4 separate regions of the Homo sapiens genome follow, and regions 1, 2 and 3 are each linked to region 4. The links come from fine-mapping of genetic effects on gene expression. A gene starts in region 4. Each other region holds a variant in brackets. All regions are shown on one strand. Distances are from middle to middle. Region 1 overlaps UBTD1 (ubiquitin domain containing 1). Region 2 overlaps RRP12 (ribosomal RNA processing 12 homolog). Region 3 has its middle 19 kb from the start of LOXL4. Region 4 holds the start of ZDHHC16 (zDHHC palmitoyltransferase 16).

The links. PIP is the estimated chance that this variant, and not a neighbour inherited with it, causes the effect.
Region 1: its variant is fine-mapped to the expression of ZDHHC16 in whole blood (INTERVAL, PIP above 0.99).
Region 2: its variant is fine-mapped to the expression of ZDHHC16 in whole blood (TOPMed, PIP above 0.99).
Region 3: its variant is fine-mapped to the expression of ZDHHC16 in monocytes after R848 (Quach 2016, PIP 0.95).

Annotation. Positions count from the first base shown.
Region 1 is chr10:97,565,164-97,567,848 of GRCh38, forward strand. All of the region lies in intron 1 of UBTD1 (ubiquitin domain containing 1), which reads left to right. Among named protein-coding and RNA genes, the nearest start is that of ANKRD2, 6.3 kb to the right of the region's middle. RefSeq lists a silencer at 1,608-1,697. The variant C/G (reference allele first, on the strand shown) is at 1,641.
Region 2 is chr10:97,375,305-97,377,989 of GRCh38, forward strand. The region is part of intron 15 of RRP12 (ribosomal RNA processing 12 homolog); the gene reads right to left. Among named protein-coding and RNA genes, the nearest start is that of RRP12, 25 kb to the right of the region's middle. The variant C/T (reference allele first, on the strand shown) is at 1,683.
Region 3 is chr10:98,286,012-98,288,696 of GRCh38, forward strand. No RefSeq gene overlaps it. Among named protein-coding and RNA genes, the nearest start is that of LOXL4, 19 kb to the left of the region's middle. The variant G/A (reference allele first, on the strand shown) is at 1,472.
Region 4 is chr10:97,445,039-97,447,723 of GRCh38, forward strand. It overlaps ZDHHC16 (zDHHC palmitoyltransferase 16), which reads left to right and starts at 1,137. Exons shown (of 12, transcript NM_198046.3): 1 at 1,137-1,315. EXOSC1 (exosome component 1) reads right to left here and starts at 968. Exons shown (of 8, transcript NM_016046.5): 1 at 917-968; 2 at 694-809. The coding sequence starts at 947. RefSeq lists enhancers at 97-677, 678-1,257 and a silencer at 1,189-1,398.

The sequences.
Region 1 (2,685 bases), 120 kb after region 4:
ATAAATCTCTTCAAATATTTTACGGGGTTTGGCTTTTTTTGTCCAACAGTCTGTCCCTGTTCCAGTACTGTGCCAACTGTAGCTTTATAATTAATGCTGATCATGGCAGCACAACTTCTCCCACCTGATTCTTTTCTAGGAACATCTTTGTTCTTCTATATAAAATTTAGAATCAGTTTGCCAGGTTCCTTGGGAAAAAACTGACAGGAATTATATTGGAATTGTATTACATTTATAGATCAGTTTAGGGGGAGTGGACATCTCCATGATTTCTTTGAATGTTGCTTCCTTCCCATTTTCCCTATTGTATACTTCTGGAAATTCAGTTCAAAATTTTAGACCTAGCAGGGCATAGTGTCACCTATATAGTCCCAGCTGCTTGGGAGGCTGCTGGGGGAGAATACCTTGAGCCCAGGAGTTTGAGGCTGCAGTGAGCTATGATCACACCACCGCACTCCAGACTGGGCGACAGAGTGACCTTGTCTCTCAAACAGAAAAAAGACATCCGAATCTCAATTATATTGTATTTTTCTTTATTTTTATTTTCTTTTTATTTTTTTGAGACAGGGTCTCACTTTGTCACCCAGGCTGGATTTGGAGTGCAGTGGCATGATCATGGCTCACTGCAGCCTCAACCTTTCTGGGCTCAGGTGATCCTCCCACCTCAGCCTCCTAAATAACTGGGACTACAGCTGCATGCCACCATGCCCGACTAATTTTTTGTATTTTTTGTAGAGACAGGTTTTTGCCATATTGCCCAGGCTGATCTCGAATTCCTGGGCTCAAGTGATCCATCTGCCTTGACCTCCCAAAGTGCTGGGACTACAGGTGTGAGCCACTAGGCCTGGCCTGTATTTTTAATTTTTAGAAGTTCTATATGGTTCTTTTAAGATCTTCTTGGTTATACCTACTATGTACCCACAAAAATTAAACATTTTTAAAAAATCTCCTTGGTCATTCTTTATAATCTCTTATTCATATTTTTAAGGCCCTCATCCCTTAACTCAGTATTTCATAATCTATCCAAAGTCTTTGCAAATCTGATTCTTTTGTCTGCTGTTTTTGCCAGTAAAGCTCGTACTGCCTTGTTTCCTTGCATATTGAGATTTTTTTTTTTTTTTTTAAAACTATTACCTTATTTATTTTTCTTGGAACTTTATCTTGGGAATTCTTTGAGGCCTGGTTTGAAGTTGTTTTCCTCCAAAGAGGGTTTGCCTTTCCTTCTGCCACCTCACCACCCCAGGAACACTTTAAATTAAATATTTGGCTTTAGAGTTTTCTGCCCCTACAGGTAACTGTGAATTCAGATGGTGAACTACAGGATTTAGTCAGACCTGAGGTGGAACCCTCACTCACTTACTATGTGACCTGGGGCAAGTCATTTAATCTCTCTAAATCTGTCATATCACCTGTGAAATAGCAATAATAATACCTACTGCCTAAGGCTACTGCAAGAATGAAATGGGATCATGTATATAAATAAAGGCTTGCCTGGGGTTCTTTCTCAGCGGAGATCGCTGCCTGCAATTCTCTTCCTTGCTTCCTTTTGCCCCAGCCAGTGGGAGCAGCCTGGTGGTGGCCCCCAGCCTCAGTTCTTCCACTCACTGTAGGACCTGAGTTATAGTGGAAGCAGAGTGCTT[C/G]ACATCTCACTCCTGTGGCTCACTCTGCCTTTAGTTTTGAGATGACTGAGCCTCCAAAAGCCTTTGAGAGATACCTCTGCCCTCAGTCTTGGCTGTGGTTTGGAGTTGTCTTGGAGGTCACTTGGAGCTGGGTAACAAGAAAAATGACATTTGACAGAATTGTTTTCTTTGTCAGATGCTGCAGGAATTTTTGGGGGAGTTTGTTGGTCATGATTGCTTAAAAAATCCTTTTTTTAAGTGGGACATTAGTAACAAGATGTTAAAATTGTTAATAATTTTTTTTTTGAGACATGGTTTCGCTGTGTTGCCCAGGATGGAGTGCAGTGGCATGACCACAGCTCACTGCAGCCTCAACCTCCCAGGCTCAAGTGATTCTCCCATCTCAGCCTCCCAAGTAGCTGGAACTAGAGGAGCGTGCCATCATGCCTGGCTAATTTTTAAAATTTTTTTGTAGAAACAGGGTTTTACCATGTTGCCCTGGGTGGTCTAGAACTGCCGGGCTCAAGCAATCCTACTGCCTCCCAAAGTGCTGGGATTACAGGCGTGAGCCACCGCGCCCTGCCCCACATCATGTGGGAAGGGTGCGGTGGCTCACGCCTGTAATCCCAGTACTTCGGGAGGCTGAGGCGGGTGGATCACGAGGTCAGGAGTTTGAGACCAGCCTGACTAACATGGTGAAACCCCATCTCTACTAAAAATACAAAAATTAATCAGGCGTGGTGGTGGGCGCCTGTAATCCCAGCTACTCGGGAGGCTGAGGCAGGAGAGTCGCTTGAACCCGGGAGGCGGAGGTTGCAGTGAGCCGAGGTCATGCCATTGCACTCCAGCCTGGGCAACAAGAGTGAAACTCCATCTCAAAAACAAAAAACAAAAAACAAAAACAATGGTAGCGTATGCTTTGCTGACACAATTATTTTATGTCCCTAGGTTGGTTATGTGAAGTTTTCTGACTCTTCCCTGCTATTTAGGAAGGGCTTCAAAGACCTGAATACTTAGTAGCCAGTGCAGCAGGGTTTCAGGGTCTGGCCTGGGGAGGGGAGGGGAG
Region 2 (2,685 bases), 70 kb before region 4:
TGTTGCCCAGGCTGTTCTTGAACTCTTGGCCTCACACAATCCTTCTGCCTCAGACTCTCAGAGTGTTGGGATTACAGGCGTAAGCTGCTGCATCTGGCCAAAAGTAGGGCTTTACCATAACTAATTTAACTGGAACCCTAATGAGAAAGATACTAGATGTGTTACAGTTTTTGCCAGTATAAGCCAATACTGTCAGGCACGTCTTTGCTAGGAACATAAATCAGTACGCACTTGTCTATCTTCTCAGGACAGATACCTGCGTGTAGTATTACCAGGACAAAGGGAATACATAACATCAGCCTTAAGAATAATGCCAGGGTTTATAGGTAACATTAATGATGGTAATGACCCTCATTTTGGGGGTTCATCTGTATTTTCTTTGATGGGCATATATTTCTATTGAAAATAGAACAAATTTTTCCTTTTTAATATCAGGAAAAACTTTAAGTTACTAATATGTGCACATTAATTCCAACAGAGTAGAAATACAATACTATTTTTACACAGAAAAAAATGCAGCCAGACATGGTGGCTCACACCTGTAATCCCAGCACTTTGGGAGGCCAAGGCGGGTGGATCACTTGAGGTCAGGAGTCCGAGACCTGCCTGGCCAACATGGCGAAAACTTGTCTCTACTAAAAATAAAAAAATTAGCGAGGGGTGATGGTACACGCCTGTAGACGAAGCTACTCAGGAGGCTGAGGCAGAATTGCTTGAAAACCTGGGAGGTGGAGGTTGCAGTGAGCCAAGATCGCACCACTGCACTCCAGCTTGGGCAACAGAGCAAGACTCTGTCTCAAAACAAACAAACAAACAAACAAACCGACCCAAACAAAGCAAAGGAAAATACATTAAAAACTTGAGTAGTAACAATTTCTGGGTGGGAAGACTGAATGACTTTTACTTTCTTTTTTTTTTTTTTTTTTTTGAGATGAAGTCTCGCTCTGTCTCCCAGGCTGGAGTGCAGTGGTGTCATCTCGGCTCACTGCAACCTCTGCTTCCTGGGTGCAAACGATTGTCCTGCCTCAGCCTCCCAAGTAGCTGGGATTACAGGTGCGTGCCACCATGCCCAGCTAATTTTTGTATTTTTAGTAGAGACGGGGTTTCTCCATGTTGTTTAGGCTGGTCTCGAACTCCTGACCTCATGATCTGCCCGCTTCAGCCTCCCAAAGTGCTGAGATTACAGGCACGAGCCACTGCGCTTGGCCTTACTTTCTTCTTTAAGCACTTCCTGTATATTCTACAAGATCATGTGTGAAATCAGGAAACTGCCCTAGAGCAGGGTTTCTCAATCTTGACAATGTGGACATTTTGGGCCTAGTACTCTTTGTTGTGTGAGGTCGTCCTGTGCATTGCAGGGTGCTTAGCAGCATCCTGGCCTCTACCCACTAGATGCCAGAGCACCCATCCCCCAACGGTAACAACCAAAAATGTCTCCAGGCATTGCTGAATGTCCTACAGGCAGCAAAATCACCCTCCTTGTTGAGAACCACTGCCCTAGACCAGGAGTCAGCCAACTTTTTGTGCAAAAGGACCAGTACTTTAAGCTCGGCAGGCCATACAATTTCTTTCTTTTCTTTTTTTTTTTTTTTTGAGACAGAGTCTCGCTGTGTTGCCCAGGCTGGAGTGAAGTGGTGCGATCTTGGCTCACTGCAACCTCCGCCCCCCAGAGTCCAAGCGTT[C/T]TCCTGCCTCAGCCTCCCGAGTAGGTGGGATTATAGGCACCTACCACCATGCCTGGCTAATTTTTGTACTTTTAGTAGAGATGGGGTTTCATCATGTTGGCCAGGCTGGTCTCAAGCTCCTGACTTCAGGTGATCCACCCACCTCGGCCTCCCCGAGTGCTAGGATTACAGGTGTGAGCCACTGTGCCCAGCCCACGGTACGTATGATTTCTATCACAATAACTCTGTCATTAAAAAGTAGTGTGACAGGCTGGCCATGGTGGCTCATGCCTGTACTCCCAGCACTTTGGGAGGCCGAGGCAGGTAGATTTTCTGAGGTCAGGTGTTTGAGACCAGCCTGGCCAACATGGTGAAACCCCATCTGCACTAAAAATACAAGAAATTTTTAAAAAGTGAGCCAGGTGTGGTGGCACATGCCTGTAGTCCTACCTACTTGGGAGGCTAAGGCAGGAGAATCGCTTGAATCTGGGAGGCAGAGGTTGCAGTGAACTGAGATCGTGCCACTGCACTCCAGCCTGGGTGACAGAACAAGAATAAATGTGTATGTGTCTGTGTTTCAATAAAATTGTATGTACAGGCTTGGCACAGTGGCTCACGCCTGTAATCCCAACACTTTGGGAGGCTGAGGCAGGTGGACCGCCTGAGGTCAGGAGTTCAAGACCAGCCTGGCCAACATGGTGAAACCCCATCTATACTAAAAATACAAAATTAGCTGGGTGTGGTGGCAGGTGCTTGTAATCCCAGCTCCTTGGGAGGCTGAGGCAGGAGATTCTCTTGAACCCAGGAGGCGGAGATTGCAGTGAGCTGAGATCGCACCTTTGCACTCCAGCCTGGGTGACAAGAGCAAGACTTCATCTCAAAAAAAAAAAAAAAAAGAAAAAAAAAGAAAATTTATTTACAAAAACAGACAGCGGATGAAATAGTTTAGCAATGCTGCCCTACATCCTCAAAATCCACAAAATCCAATGAAAACGAAAAGCTTCTGAAGCCATCACTAGGCTGA
Region 3 (2,685 bases), 840 kb after region 4:
TGGGCCAGATGAGGTTCTGTGCCAGGCCTCTGGGGGAACAGGGAGGCAGGTGGTAAGGGGACACTTTGAGAGTCAGCCAAGTCCCAGAATGGGTGGGGGGTTCCTCAAAGGGAAAGTGAAGTGTGGTACCAATAAAAGGAAAAAGGACCCTGGGTAGAAAAAAACACCAGCTTGCAGGCCAGGGACCAGAGCCTGTTTTACTGCCCCTCTTCTTGGCCTGATTCCTCCCTTGCAATCGCTACTGCTTTCCACTCGGTTCCTCAGAAGGACTAGGGAGAAGCCAGATTGTTTTCTTTTCTAACATTAGAGTATCCCTCGAGTCAGCAGTGAAAGATAATTAGACTGTGATCGTTCTATTTAAGCACTTCACTTAATCAATTACAATCGCCTATGCTGTCTCCTAGTATCGATTATAGATTCCTTCGTTCTGGAAATCATACAGCTCCCTCCTGGGATGCTACCGCTGGCACCATGGCTCTCGTGGACGCATGAACACCCCGTGCTGAAGCAGACCTTTCTATGCGGCTGCTCGAGATCCTTTTTCATCTTAATTGTTTCTGAAGACAGGACAGAATACCAGCTCCTTCCATGCCTAACCTGAATCCAAGTGGGAAGGAGCAGCCCAGTTAATGGGGCATACAGTGGCTCCCAGGTGGGCAGGATGAGGTTGGTGGCTCCAGACGCCCTCTCAGAGGAGACACAGGACACGGACTACGGATTGGCTGTGACCCTCTGTAAGGACGATAACTGGGGAAAGGTGACCCTGGACAAACACCAAGCCACCTCACCCACCATAGTCATCATGGCAGGAAACAATGGCTCAGGCCAGAACAGAGTGCAAGTCAGCAGGAAGGTCCCAGAGCTGCCTCAGGTCCAAGCAGCGTGGAAAGGAGAGGAAGGGCTGGAGGTGAAAGACAAAGTTGCGGTGGTTTTCAACCTGGCTGCACATTTAAAAAGACCCATGCTCAGTGGGTTAGGAAGAGCAAGCTAGCTGCACAAACTGGAGACACCTGAGTAGGGAGAATAACTGGGAAATTATCCCAGGTCTATTAGCCAGGGTTCTCCCGAGAGACAAATCCAGTAGGAGCTCTTTCTCTCCCTCTCTCTCTCTCTCTCTCTCTCTCTCTCTCTCCACACACATACAAACACACACGCACACACATACTCATATATAGAGGGGATTTCTTAGTGGAACTGGCTCACGCAGTTTGGAGGCTGAGAAGTGCCACAGCAGACTATCTGCAAGCTGGAGACCCTGGGATGCTGTAGTGTGGCTCAGTCTCAGAGCCAAGGAAGCTGATGGTGTAATTCTCAGTCTGAGGCTGATGACCTAAGAAGCTTGGGGGCTGCTGGCATAAGTTCTGAGTCCCAAGGCCTGACAGCCTGAATTTCTGATGTCCAAGGACAGGAGAAGAAGAGTGTCCCAGGTCTAGGAGAAAGAGAGGCGATCACCTTTCCTCTGCCCTTTTTC[G/A]TTTTATTCAGGCCCCCAGCTGATTAGATGGTGCCCACTTACACTGAGGGCAGACCTTCCCCACCCAGTCCACCCACTCCCATGCCAGTCTCCCCTCCAAGCAACCTCACAGACACACTGGGAAGTGATGCCTTACCAGCTCTCTATAGAGTCCTTCATTCAGTCAAGCTGACGCTTAAAATTAACCATCACGCCAGGTATGAAGCGATAAGGACCCTCCACTGAGGTGTAGGCAAGTTCGTAGAGGTGGTCATGTTTGAGCGAATGGCCTGGTAATGGTTTAAAGGCTTTTATTGAAGTATGGGTGGTGAACAGAGCTGCCTGCCCTCCCGTGATCAATCCCAGTGCTGTCTGCCTCCTCTCAGCACCTAGTCCTATGCCTGGGCCTGGGAAGTGCTTGATAAATTCTGAATGAACCCAAGGACCTGGGCAAAGAAACATGGTTCATTACCAGGAAAAAAGGAAATTTAGACTTACCTCAGTAAAGGAGTGATCAAATAACCCATGGTATAACCCTGGTATGGAACATGGAGCAACAGAGAAAAAGGATGAGAAAAGCAATCCCATTATTGGGTGTATACCCAAAGGAATATAAATTGTTCTGCTATAAAGACACATGCACGTGTATGTTCACCAAAGCACTACTCACAATAGCAAAGTCACAGAATCAACCTAAATGCCCATAAGTGGTAGACTGGATAAAGAAAATGTGGTACATATATGGAATCTACATGGACGTGAAAAAGAACGAGATCATGTCCTTTGCATCAACATGGATGGAGCTGGAAGACATTATCCTAAGTGAACTATCACTGGAACAGAAAACTAAATACTGCATGTTCTCACTTATAAGTGGGAGCTAAACATCAAGTGCCTATGGACACAAAGAAGGGAACGACAAACACTGGGGCCAACTTGAGGGTGGAAGGAGGAGGGTGAGGATTGAAAAACTACCTGTGGGTTCTATGCTTATTACCTGAGTAGCCAAGTAATCTGTACACCAAACCCCCATGACATGCAATTTACCTATATAACAAACAGGCACATGTACTCTTGAACCTAAAATAAAAGTTAAAAATAAAAAATAAATAGAAAAAAGTATAAGAAAGACATGGAATGGTTTCCAGACATAAAGTGAAAAAAGCAAGTTCCTCACCAATGTGAGTAGAAGGATGCCATTTGTGTAAAGAAGGAGAAGCTCAAATTATGAGTAT
Region 4 (2,685 bases):
CATAGTGCTTGGAAGAAAAGGAACAGAGTTTTTTGTGAGTCTTTAACAAAACAAACAAAAACAAAACACCCCACAAAACTCCTTTCCTCAATTAGTGGGTCCAGAAGGACTTCTCTGAGGTGATAGTAGAGAAGCTATCTAAAGGAGGTAGGAATTAAATAGGCCTAGGAAGATAGAAGCGTTCCAGATAGATGGCATGTTACAAAGGCTCTGTAGCAGGAGAAAGCTTGGCGCATTACCGACACTGAAAGAAGCTAGTATGTTATAAAAAATTTTTAAAGGGCAAGCAGAGACTGTGATTATAACTTTTAAACACAGAAAAGACAGTATGACTAGATTGCGTCAGTGAGGTGGAGATAGTGGCGCTAGATAAAGTCGGAAAGGTAAGCAACATTCATACAGTATGCAACTCACTGCTGGGCTGAGCTGGGCTGGGATGGGATACTGAGTTCGCATCTGCTTTTGTCCCAACTTCCCTCCCCGAGGGTCAGCAGCACAACCAAGCGAGATCAACACAACTAGTGTGTGGTGGCTAAGTGCACCACAGCGGCGATACGGCTAGAAGAAACTAAGAGACCAACATTGTACCACTGAGGCACTAAAGACGCGTCCGCAGTGCCCATGCCTAAGGACTGGAACTCAAGGGCAGCCTAAGGGAAAAACAGAGGGGAGATGGCATGCCGCTTCCTTTACCGCGCCATTCTCGCTGCTCTTCATCAGACAGCCGGCAAGCGACGAAAAGATGTAGCCGTGGCGGGTGTAGGTGCCGCTGCCCGGGCTGCCCTCCTCCAAGTTACACAGACGTTCGCCTGCAGAAAAAATGCTGCATCGGTCACGGGCCCCCAGAAGCTGTAGGCCGTTTAGCCTTCTTGCTTCAGCCCCTATCCAGGACTCTGTACGGGAAGCGCTCACTTACCGGGGATGCAGTATCTCACAGGTGGCGCCATGATTGCCGCTGTCCCAAAACCAGGATGAAAACGAAGTCGATTTCTCATTGGCCAAACCCAGGCACAGTTCCGCAGTAAGACACGTGTCAATTGGTACTCTTTATCCTTGCGAGTAAACTCCATTTCCCAGGTTACCCCGGGACAAATCCGGGGGCGGAACTTCAGAGGTCCACGCTGGCGCCTGCGCGTGTGGTTGAGGATGGGCTGGCGGCGGGTCCGGGTCCGCTGCCTGGCGCTGCGGGCGGCGGGCCATGGTGGTTTGGATTGAGCCGGGCCCGGCCGGGGCGCCGAGTCGGAGGGGGTGGCAGTGAGCGGCGGCAGAGGCTACGGGGCTCGGTTTGGCTGACTGGGGAGTCGGCAGGCGGCAGGTAAGGGCGAAGCCTCGGCCCTTGCTCCCCATCCTAGTCCCTTTTTCTGGGTAGGGCACTGCCCTGGGGCCTTGTCTTGAGTGCGGGTTCCTGCTCTCTCCTCGCCCCGCCCTGCGGGGCCGTGCCCTCCTCAGCCCGAGCGCACCTTCCGAGCAATCGTTACGCTCAGAGCAGGAGGGAAGGAGGTCAAGCGACCCAACTCGTCTGTTTCACAGATATGGAACCTCAGATTCAGAGACAGGGTTTGACTTGTCCAAAATGATCAAGATAGTTAAGATAGAGCCCAAACTGGAACCCACGGTTTTTGACTTCCAGTCCATCGCAGTTTCACCTCGCGGCTGTCATTGAGAAATAAAACCTTTTCCCGGTTTTTTTGTTTTGTTTTTGAGGAGTCTCGCTCTGTCGCCAGGCTGGAGTGCAGTGGAGCGATCTCTGTTCACTGCAACCTCCGCCTCCCGGCATCAAGCGATTCTCCTGCCTCAGCCTCCCGCGCAGCTGGGACTTACAGGCGCGCGCCACCACGCCCAGCTAATTTTTGTAGTTTTAGTAGTGACGGGGTTTCACCATGTTAGCCAGGATGGTCTTGATCTCTTGATCCGCCCGCCTCGGCCTTCCAAAGTGCAGGGAGTACAGGCATGAGCCACTGCCTCCGGCCTTTTCCCGGTTTTTTAAACTGCAGCTTCCAGTCCTGCGGTCCGATCCTCTTCGCGGCCCCTCATCCCCACTTCAGTAAGCTTTCTCTGGTTGAAAAAGCCGAACTCTGGTTGTGTGGGCCCGTCATCAAAAGATAAGCAGCCCCAAAATAAAGTTGTTACTCTTTTTCTTCTCAGCGTGTTAGCCCAGAAGGGAGGTCTGCACATGAATAAAATGCTACTCTTTATTGATGTTGGGTATCTCCTACTTGAGATTGCAAACATCCTGAGAGCAGCGTCTTTGTCCAGATGACATTCGCCACGACTTTGATCTCAGTTCACCTGACTTCTGATGGCTTTGCCGTCTGTCCTTCCCTGTCCCCTCAGTCGACTTTCCCATTGGGAAACAGATGTGACTTAAAGCCATGGGAAGAGGGGAGTGTTGTGGCCAGCAATCTCCTCCAGTCTGGTGGCAGATGACCAGTATGGCCTGTGACTATTACTGAAGGATCAGAGTACTCGGGCTTGTGCTTGGGGTGGTAGTAAAGCTGCGCTTTGCTCTGTTTCCTCCCGTTCACTGAGATTAGCCCCTTCTCCCCTACACACATCTTTTTGAATTTTGCTTTACTTCTATTTCTTGAGATGAAAAGTCTGGGCCAGGTGCGGTGGCTCACGCCTGCAATCCCAGCACTTTGGGAGGCTGAGGCAAGCACATCACCTGAGGTCGGGAGTTTGAGA